3 separate regions of the Homo sapiens genome follow, and regions 1 and 3 are each linked to region 2. The links come from fine-mapping of genetic effects on gene expression. A gene starts in region 2. Each other region holds a variant in brackets. All regions are shown on one strand. Distances are between the middles of the regions. Region 1 overlaps LINC01504 (long intergenic non-protein coding RNA 1504). Region 2 holds the start of LINC01504 (long intergenic non-protein coding RNA 1504). Region 3 overlaps LINC01504 (long intergenic non-protein coding RNA 1504).

What was found.
Region 1: its variant is fine-mapped to the expression of LINC01504 in whole blood (TOPMed, PIP 0.98).
Region 3: its variant is fine-mapped to the expression of LINC01504 in whole blood (TOPMed, PIP above 0.99).

What each region holds. Positions count from the first base shown.
Region 1 is chr9:72,324,742-72,327,506 of GRCh38, reverse strand. The region is part of intron 2 of LINC01504 (long intergenic non-protein coding RNA 1504); the gene reads right to left. Among named protein-coding and RNA genes, the nearest start is that of LINC01504, 21 kb to the right of the region's middle. The variant C/T (reference allele first, on the strand shown) is at 1,492.
Region 2 is chr9:72,304,278-72,307,042 of GRCh38, reverse strand. It overlaps LINC01504 (long intergenic non-protein coding RNA 1504), which reads right to left and starts at 1,607. Exons shown (of 5, transcript NR_110952.1): 1 at 1,418-1,607.
Region 3 is chr9:72,334,529-72,337,293 of GRCh38, reverse strand. LINC01504 (long intergenic non-protein coding RNA 1504) reads right to left here. Exons shown (of 5, transcript NR_110952.1): 4 at 1,797-1,902. Among named protein-coding and RNA genes, the nearest start is that of ZFAND5, 29 kb to the left of the region's middle. The variant T/G (reference allele first, on the strand shown) is at 1,310.

The DNA.
Region 1 (2,765 bases), 20 kb before region 2:
GTGGTGTGTGCCTGTAGTCCCAGCTACTCGGGAGGCTGAGGCAGGAGAATCACTTGAACTCGTGAGGCGGAGGTTACAGTAAGCAGAGATCGTGCCACTGTACTCCAGCCTGGGCAACAGAGCAAGACTCCATCTCAAAAATAAATAAATACGTAAACAAATAAAATTTAAAAAAAAATCACAGACCACAAAGTAATACAAATCTGCCATGATCAAGGCCATCAGAGAAGTATAGATGAAGGCACTTAGAGGATGAGAGTTTACTTTGAAAATAAGCTAATAATTGAACTAGGTGATGGGTACATATGGGCATGTAGGTTGGGGTGTGTAGGGCTCCTTCTACGTAAGTGGAAGGAATAATGAAAGCAAATGTAAAGAAGTAGGATAGCATGGAGTATGTATTGAAAACAGCAAATTGATTTTGCTTTGGAACAGGGATCAATAAACTGGCCCATCCAGCCTACCATCTGTTTTTATATGTGCCCTGAACTAAGAATAATTTTCATATTTTAAATGGTTGAGAAAAAACAAGATAATTAAAAATTTATAACATGAAAATTATATTAAATTCAAATATTAGGATTCATAACTAAGCACAGCCACACTGTTTTGTTTACATATTGTCCATGGCTGCTTTCACACTACAATGGCAGAGTTGAGCAGTTGCGACAGAGACCACATGACTGAAGAGCCTAAAATATTTTCTGTCTGGTTTTTTTTTTTTTTTTGATGGAGTTTCCCTCTTGTTGCCCAGTCTGGAGTGTAATGGTGCAGTCTCAGCTCACTGCAACCTCTGCCTCCCAGGTTCAAGCGAGTCTCCTGCCTCAGTTTCCCCAGTAGCTGGGATTACAGGCAGATGCTACAATGCCCAGCCAATTTTTGTATTTTTAGTAGAGACAGGGTTTCACCATATTGGTCAAGGCTGGTTTTGAACTCCTGACCTCAGGTCATCTGCCCGACTCAGCCTCCAAAAGTGTTGGGATTACAGGCGTGAGCCACCATGCCCAGCCTCTATCTGGTTCTTTATAGAAAAAGTATGCGGCCAGGTGTGGTGGCTCACACCTGTAATCCCAGAACTTTGCGAGGCCAAGGCAGGCGGATCGCTTGAGCTCACAAGTTTGAGACCAGCCTAGGCAACATAGTGAAACCTTGTCTCTACCAAGAATACAAAAAAATTAGCTGGGTGTGGTGGTGTGCACCTGTGGTCCCAGCTACTCGGGTGGCTAAGGCGGGAGGATCGCTTGAGTCCCAGAGGTGGAGGTTGCAGTGAGCTGAGATCATGCCACTGCACTGCAGCCTGGGTAACAGAGTGAGACTCTGTCTCAAAAGAAAAAGAAAAGAAAAAGTTTGCCAACTCCTGCTTCAGAAGAACCCTCAGGGGCATAAAGGAAATAGCAGAAGAAGATATGCTGGTCCAGTATTGCCATTTGGCCTTTGGTAACAGCCTACATTCTTGACTTTGCTCAGCCTTTTTCTACCCACCTAAATTTT[C/T]CCATCCCAAATATTATCCTCTCAAGACCTTAATTGGTTATTTGCTAAGTAACCTGAGAGCTAATTTTGCGATCTTTTTAAAGCTGTGATTGAATCATAACAGTTTAATGTATAACTTATTACTCCTCCTAGGTAACATATTTGGAATTTAGGGGAACCCAAACCAAAAAATTGCTTCCCCCTGGCAGAACAGTGGGAAAGATATTTGCAAAAGTGAGCCTTCCTTCAACTTTCATGTCACACCTTATAGGCAGCCAATTCTACCTATCAAAAGCAAACTTGGTTGTTAGTTTTGCTGTTACCCTTTCAATTGGTTAAGTTACTAGTATGCCATTTGCTGCTAAGTTTACCCTTAGGGGAGAAAAATAACGGCAAGAATTACTTTACAATAATTGTCAACCACTGAGAGTTAAGTCTCTATGCCCCCTTTAGCTAATAAGGTAGGCCTGGGTAGCTATCATTAAGTCAAAGATTTTTTCATGAAGGAGGAAACAGCTCCCTGATGAATTTGAGATGAGATTAGAAATGCTGAAAGCAGTGTTCTCAAACTTTAGCATAGAGAAGAACCGCCAGAGGTCTGTTAAAATACGAATCCGCTAATCTTACCCCCAGAGAATCTGTGTCTCCAGTGGAACTCAGGAGTTATGGGGGGAAAAAAAATGATGAAGGATCCAAGCTACCTCCCACAAAGCAGTCTTTATATTTGGTTCTTTACTTGCTCCAAGAATCCCTAAGTTGTTAAAGTAACAGACAATGTAAGTAGACAGAAGCATCATTTTGAAAGACTTTCCTGTTCTCTCATTCTGTTTAACTGACCTTTATTCCCAGTGAGTAAACATGAATCAAACCCTAGTCTAAGTAAGAAAACGTGATTTGAGGGAAGGGCTGGATCTTTGAAAGCAGTATAGAATGGAGGTTAGGAAGGGAACTCTAGACAGAGGCTGCCTGATTCAAATCTCACCTCTGTCACTGGTGCTATGTGAGCTTGGGTGACAACTCGAATCTCTCTGTGCCCTCGTTCCTTCATCTGTAAAATGGGAATAACAATATTATCTATGTCTCAGAGTAGCTGTGAGCATTAAATGAGTTACTACATGTAAAAAGCATAAAATAGAAACTTTTAGTACATTTCAATAAATATATAAAAACTTATTGGAGAAACTCTTGTGTGACCTCACATACCTTGTAAGAGTGGCATGAGAATTAGAGCATGTTCATAATTAAACAATTATGATTGTGCTATTTACTCCAAGTTAGCCAGGGGCTTGTTCCTT
Region 2 (2,765 bases):
TACCATTTCACAAAAGATCTTTGCATGTGTCATCTCTGTATTGCAGATCAGCCCTGAAAGACAGGAACCTCCCATATCATCATTTTATAGATGTGGAACTGAAGCTCAGCCACAATTAAGTGACTTGCCCAAAGCCACACAGCCAGTAAAGGACAAGGCCAGGACTTAAAGGTGGATCTTCCAATTCTAAATCCATTACAATCTGCTCTAAAGGACTGTCAAATGTGATGTTTCACTGAGGAATGATGACTTTGAATAGCACCATTTTATGGTAGAAGGCAAACTATCTTTCTGCCTTGAATACAATAGTTCCCCGTTAACTGAGGTCAACTGTGGTCTGAAAATATGTGAGTACAGTACAATAAGGTATTTTGAAAGAAAGAGAGAGACATTTATATAATTTTTTTTTTGAGACAGGGTCTTGCTCTGTTGTCCACAGTGGAGTGCAATGGCACAAACATAGCTCACTGCAGCCTCAACCCCCTGGGTTTAAGCAATCCGTCTGCCTCAGCTTCTGAGTACTAGGACCACAGGCATGCGCCACTATGCCTGGCTAAGTGTTTTATTTTTTGTAGAGATGGGGTTTTGCCAAATTGCCCAGGATCCTGGGCTCAAGGGATCCTCCCGCCTCTGCCTCCCAAAGTTCACAGCCATAAGCCACCTTGCCAGCCTTACATAACTTTTATTACAGTATATTGTTGTAATTTTTTAATTTTATTATTATTGTTGTTAATCTCTTACTGTGCCTAATTTATAAATTAAACTTTATAATTGTTATGTATGTATAGGAAAAACATAGTATGTACAGGGTTTGGTAAAATCTGATTTCAGGCATCTAATGGGGGGCTTGGAAGGTATCCCCCCAGATAAGAGGGGACTACTGTAATGTTCACCTGAATAATTTAGGGGAATGTTTAGAAGCCTTAGTTATAGACATTGACTCTCAGGCTATCCCCAGTCTCTAAATGTTTCCTGTGTCAACATACTCAGTTTCTGAGGGACACAAATTAAATATAGGTTCCAGAAGACACTTCAGGCAAATATACCCATATTAATACAAAATAGGACTTAATCCCAAACCCATATGGGTTTTCTACCCTGGTGACCTCAGCTGGGCTATTTCTTGGCTTCTGGCTGAATAAGGCTTAGTATAAAGGCAAACCAAAGATCATGGGCTTGAGTGTTGCACTCGACATCACATGCGCTTTTGCTGCTAATCTTGCAGGAAATTACAAAATAAAATTAACTGAGGTACAGCTTGTACACTAAACTACATATACAGTAAAGTACACAAACCTTAACTGTACAGCTTGATAAAGTTTAACGTATGTATACCCCGTGTAACCCCTACCATCAAGATATAAAACGTTTCTGGTACCTGCAGGGCATTTTAGAATATCTATAAAAACGAACTTACCCACTCTAAACTGTCAATGGGAGGAGGATGGCCTTTGCCTACGGTCTTAGCAGGACAAGCAAATAAAAGCACTAATTTTTAAATTTCAGGAAGTCTTTAGCTCTTCAGAGGCAGACCCTATGCTTAGAATAAGGGTGGGTCAGGCGTGAGCTGGCCAGCACTGTTTCCGGCTGGGTCTCTGCAGCATTTCCTCTTTCTGTAATACTTCAGCTGGTTTTCCTCAGAAGAACCACTCCTTTCCACGTGTTTGAGTCACACTAATCCCATCCTCCTGGAGCCAGGGTTGGATGATGGGAATGAGGCCTAAGCCAATGAGCGTGCTGCATTCCCAGCCCACACTGACAGGCCTAGGGGTAGGCCCAATGTAAAGCAAGGAGAGTTTTGCTGAGACAGGGAGCCAGAATCAGGAAGGGTGGAGCCAACACACTGAGACAGAAATCAGATCTGCTGACACGGCCGAGCTCCCTTATCTACCCACGCCCGAAACAAGATCCACCCTTGGACTTTTAAGTTATAAGGCTCAGTAGATCCTCTTGTGTCAAGCAGCTTGAACTTTGTTTTCTGTCACTTGCAGTCAAAATGACCCAGTAAGTTTCTGGGAGGGCTAAGTTGTCCCCTGTAAGAGAATGAGAGGAATTTTTTCTTCTCTTAAAAGAGAGTGGGCATAGAAAGGAGGGGAAAAGGAAGAGAGGGAGGCTGGAGCCCGAATTGTGGCAGAAAAGGAATGAAAGATTTGCTTTTTAAGAACAAGGACAAGGATGATGAATATTGTATTCATGTTTTTTACATTTTATGCAAACTACTTTTACCTTTCCCAAACTCCAGCAAAGTTGACTACATATAAAAATGCCTGTGTGAGTGTGTGTGTGTGTGGGTGTGGGTGTGGGTATGTGAGAGAGAGAGAGAGAGTGAGAGAGAGAGAGAGACAAGAGAAGAGAGAGGATGGGGGAGAAGAAGAAGGATGAGGAGGAGAGGAAGGCAGGCTGGCTGGCTGGCCAGGATCTACATTGTATTGAGGTGATACAGAATAAGGAACACAAGAGGCAATGAAAAGATTATCTCTAAACTCAACAAATTCAGCAAAATAGGAGTTTGAAGCCAGAACTGATCATGAGAATGTAAGCCCTCTGGCAATGCATGGAATTGTTGAAGACTGAGTTGGACTTCCGCAAGTCTTGGTATGGGGGATTGAGCCTATGTCCTCTAGATCTTAAGAGGCAGGGTGACCCCAACTAACTAGGGCTGACATTATCCCTAAGTCTATTTATTTGACAATAACATTACTTGCTAGTAAGAGTTTTCTCAGCCAATTCTAACTTTGGGTTGGTTAAACAGGAACCAAAAAGGC
Region 3 (2,765 bases), 30 kb before region 2:
GCAAATGACTATTTTATGTGCTTTTTAATTTTCAGATGCTTCCATAAATTCATAGTCTTAAAAGGAAGACATTTCTTCAGAGCTCTGTAAATCTTACAGTCTGAGTCCTAAGGGAGTTGGTGGAGGTGGGAATACTTTGTATTTGCTAAGCATGACAATAATGTGGCAAAGATTTTAAGACTGTGCTCCAGCTGCAAACAAACTTTGCCAATTTCTTCCTTAGGAAAAATGAAAATAATTTTTTTTTTGAGATGGAGTCTTGTTCTGTCACCCAAGCTGGAGTACAGTGGCACCATCTTGGCTCACTGCAACCTCTGCCTCCCAGGTTCAAGCAATTCTCCTGCCTCAGCCTCCCAAGTAGCTGGGACTACAAGCATACTCCATCACACCTGGCTAATTTTTGTGTTTTTAGTAGAGATGGGGTTTTACCATGTTGCCCAGGCTGGTCTCGAACTCCTGACCTCAAGTGATCTGCCCGCCTTGGCCTCCCAAAATGCTGGGATTGCAGATGTGAGGCACAGTGCCAGCCTAGAAAAATGAAAATAATTCTTATGGTGATTACAGCTCATTCTTATCCAGCCGCCCACTCCCAACATCTCTTTTTTTATATCTTGTAAACTCATTTGTTGTAATTAAGTCAATTAAATTTCTTTCAAAAAGTTCTATAATTCAGACTTGCCTGTACTTACCTGTTTTCTATTTAGAAATAAGATTGATGAAGTATTGAAATTTTAGCTTTAGCTATAATTTGCTAAGTGGATACAGGAATTTTAAAAATGAATTTGCATTCTCCTAACATTTAAAGGGAATATTACCAGAATTGGGAAATTTCAGAGGGTAACTGGAAATGGAGATGAGAATAACGTGATTTATTGGGTAGGAGGAGAGATGGACACGCCAGGACACTTTTGAAGGTTTATGTACCATGTCTGGCCATACTCTAGAAATAATAGAGAATTTTATTAAAAAGAAAGTAACAGGCTGGGCGCGGTGGCTCACGCCTATAATCCCAGCACTTTGGGAGGCTGAGGCGGGCAGATCATGAGGTCAGGAGATCGAGACCATCCTGGCTAACACGGTGAAAACCCATCTCTACTAAAAAAAATACAAAAAATTAGCCGGGCGTGGTGGTGGGCGCCTGTAGTCCCAGCTACTCGGAAGGCTGAGGCAGGAGAATGGCATGAACTTGGGAGGCGGAGCTTGCAGTGAGCCGAGATTGTACCACGGCACTCCAGCCTGGGCGACAGAGCCAGATTCCATCTCAAAAAAAAAGTAACATTGCAGTCAATAATCAAGATAATTTTTCTTA[T/G]AAATCTAAATTTCTATTTATTTATTTATTTTTAGAAACAGCATCTTGCTCTGTTGCCCAGGATGGAGTGCAGTGGTGCGATCACAGCACACTATGGCCTTGAACTCCTCTGCTCAAGTGATTCTCCTCCCACCTCAGCCTCCCTAGTAGCTGGAACTACATGTGCAAGGCCAGAAATCTAAACTTTTTACTTCATTTTTAGTTAAGGGTTTTAGTCCTCTTTTCTTACTCCTTAATAAATTACTTGGACATACTTACATGAACAGAGAATAAATAATTATTTTTCTTCTCTTCATGATGATTAGGAAATAAATTGTTCACTGGGCACGGTGGCTCACGCCTGTAATCGCAGCACTTTGGGAGGCTGAGGCAGGCGGATCACCTGAGGTCAGGAGTTCGAGACCGTCTCGGCCAACATGGAGAAACCCCGTCTCTACAAAAATACAAAAGTTAGCCAGGCATGGTGGTGGGCGCCTGGAGCAGCTACCTGGGAGGCTGAGGCAGGAGAATCTCTTGAACTCGGGAGGTGGAGGTTGCAGTGAGGCGAGATCGGGCCATTGCACTCCAGCCTGGGTGACAGAGCAAAACTCCGTCTCAAAAAAAAAAGAAAGAAAGAAAAATAAATTATTCTTCCTTAATTAGCTTGATTTAATTATTCCATAATGAATACATATACATGAAAATATCACATTGTACCTCATAAATATATGCAATTATTAATTATCCATTAAAAATAAAATACATTTTTTAAAAGAATTAAAATAAAATAAATGGCTCCTCAGAGCAGAGAGATGTGAACTGAGCCTCAGGAAAACCGCAGGCTACTTCTGGGTCTGCCGTGAAGCAGCTGTGTGACCACAGACTAGTGCCTTGACCTCTAAGACCCTCAGTTTTCTTCACCTGTAAAATGAAGGCTTGGCTTTAGACAGTATATTCAGGTTCTTTCCAGCTTTAACATTTTAGGATTCTAGATGAGGAGAAAGACTCTTATTCAGAGACTCATTTCCTCTTCAATAGGACAGGATGAGAACTCAGAGGGTGTGGCCACTAACCTGTCTTTCCTGAGGCTCTCCTTGTCTTGTCTGGGCATTGGCTGGCCTCCTTACATGTCACCATGAGGCATTCTTCCTGGCCACCAATGTTTTGTTTAGACTTTCCCATACTATCTACCCAGAGTCTTTCAATTTGCTTCAAGCTTAACTGTGGTCAGTTCGGAGTTGAAATTCAAGTGCACAACGTGACAATGACGTCTGTGCCTTTGTTTCTGGAATAAATAGGTAAACTCTGAGGCGGAGAGGAAAGAGGGAGTGGTTCTTGCACTAGAGTGGAACTAACAGCCCATCTACTTCATAAGGCATCGATGAATTGAAAAAACAAAACTCTTTGCAGACCCCATTTCTTTCTTTTCTTTTCTCTTTTCTTTTCTTTCTTTTTTTGAGACAGAATCTCACTCCAT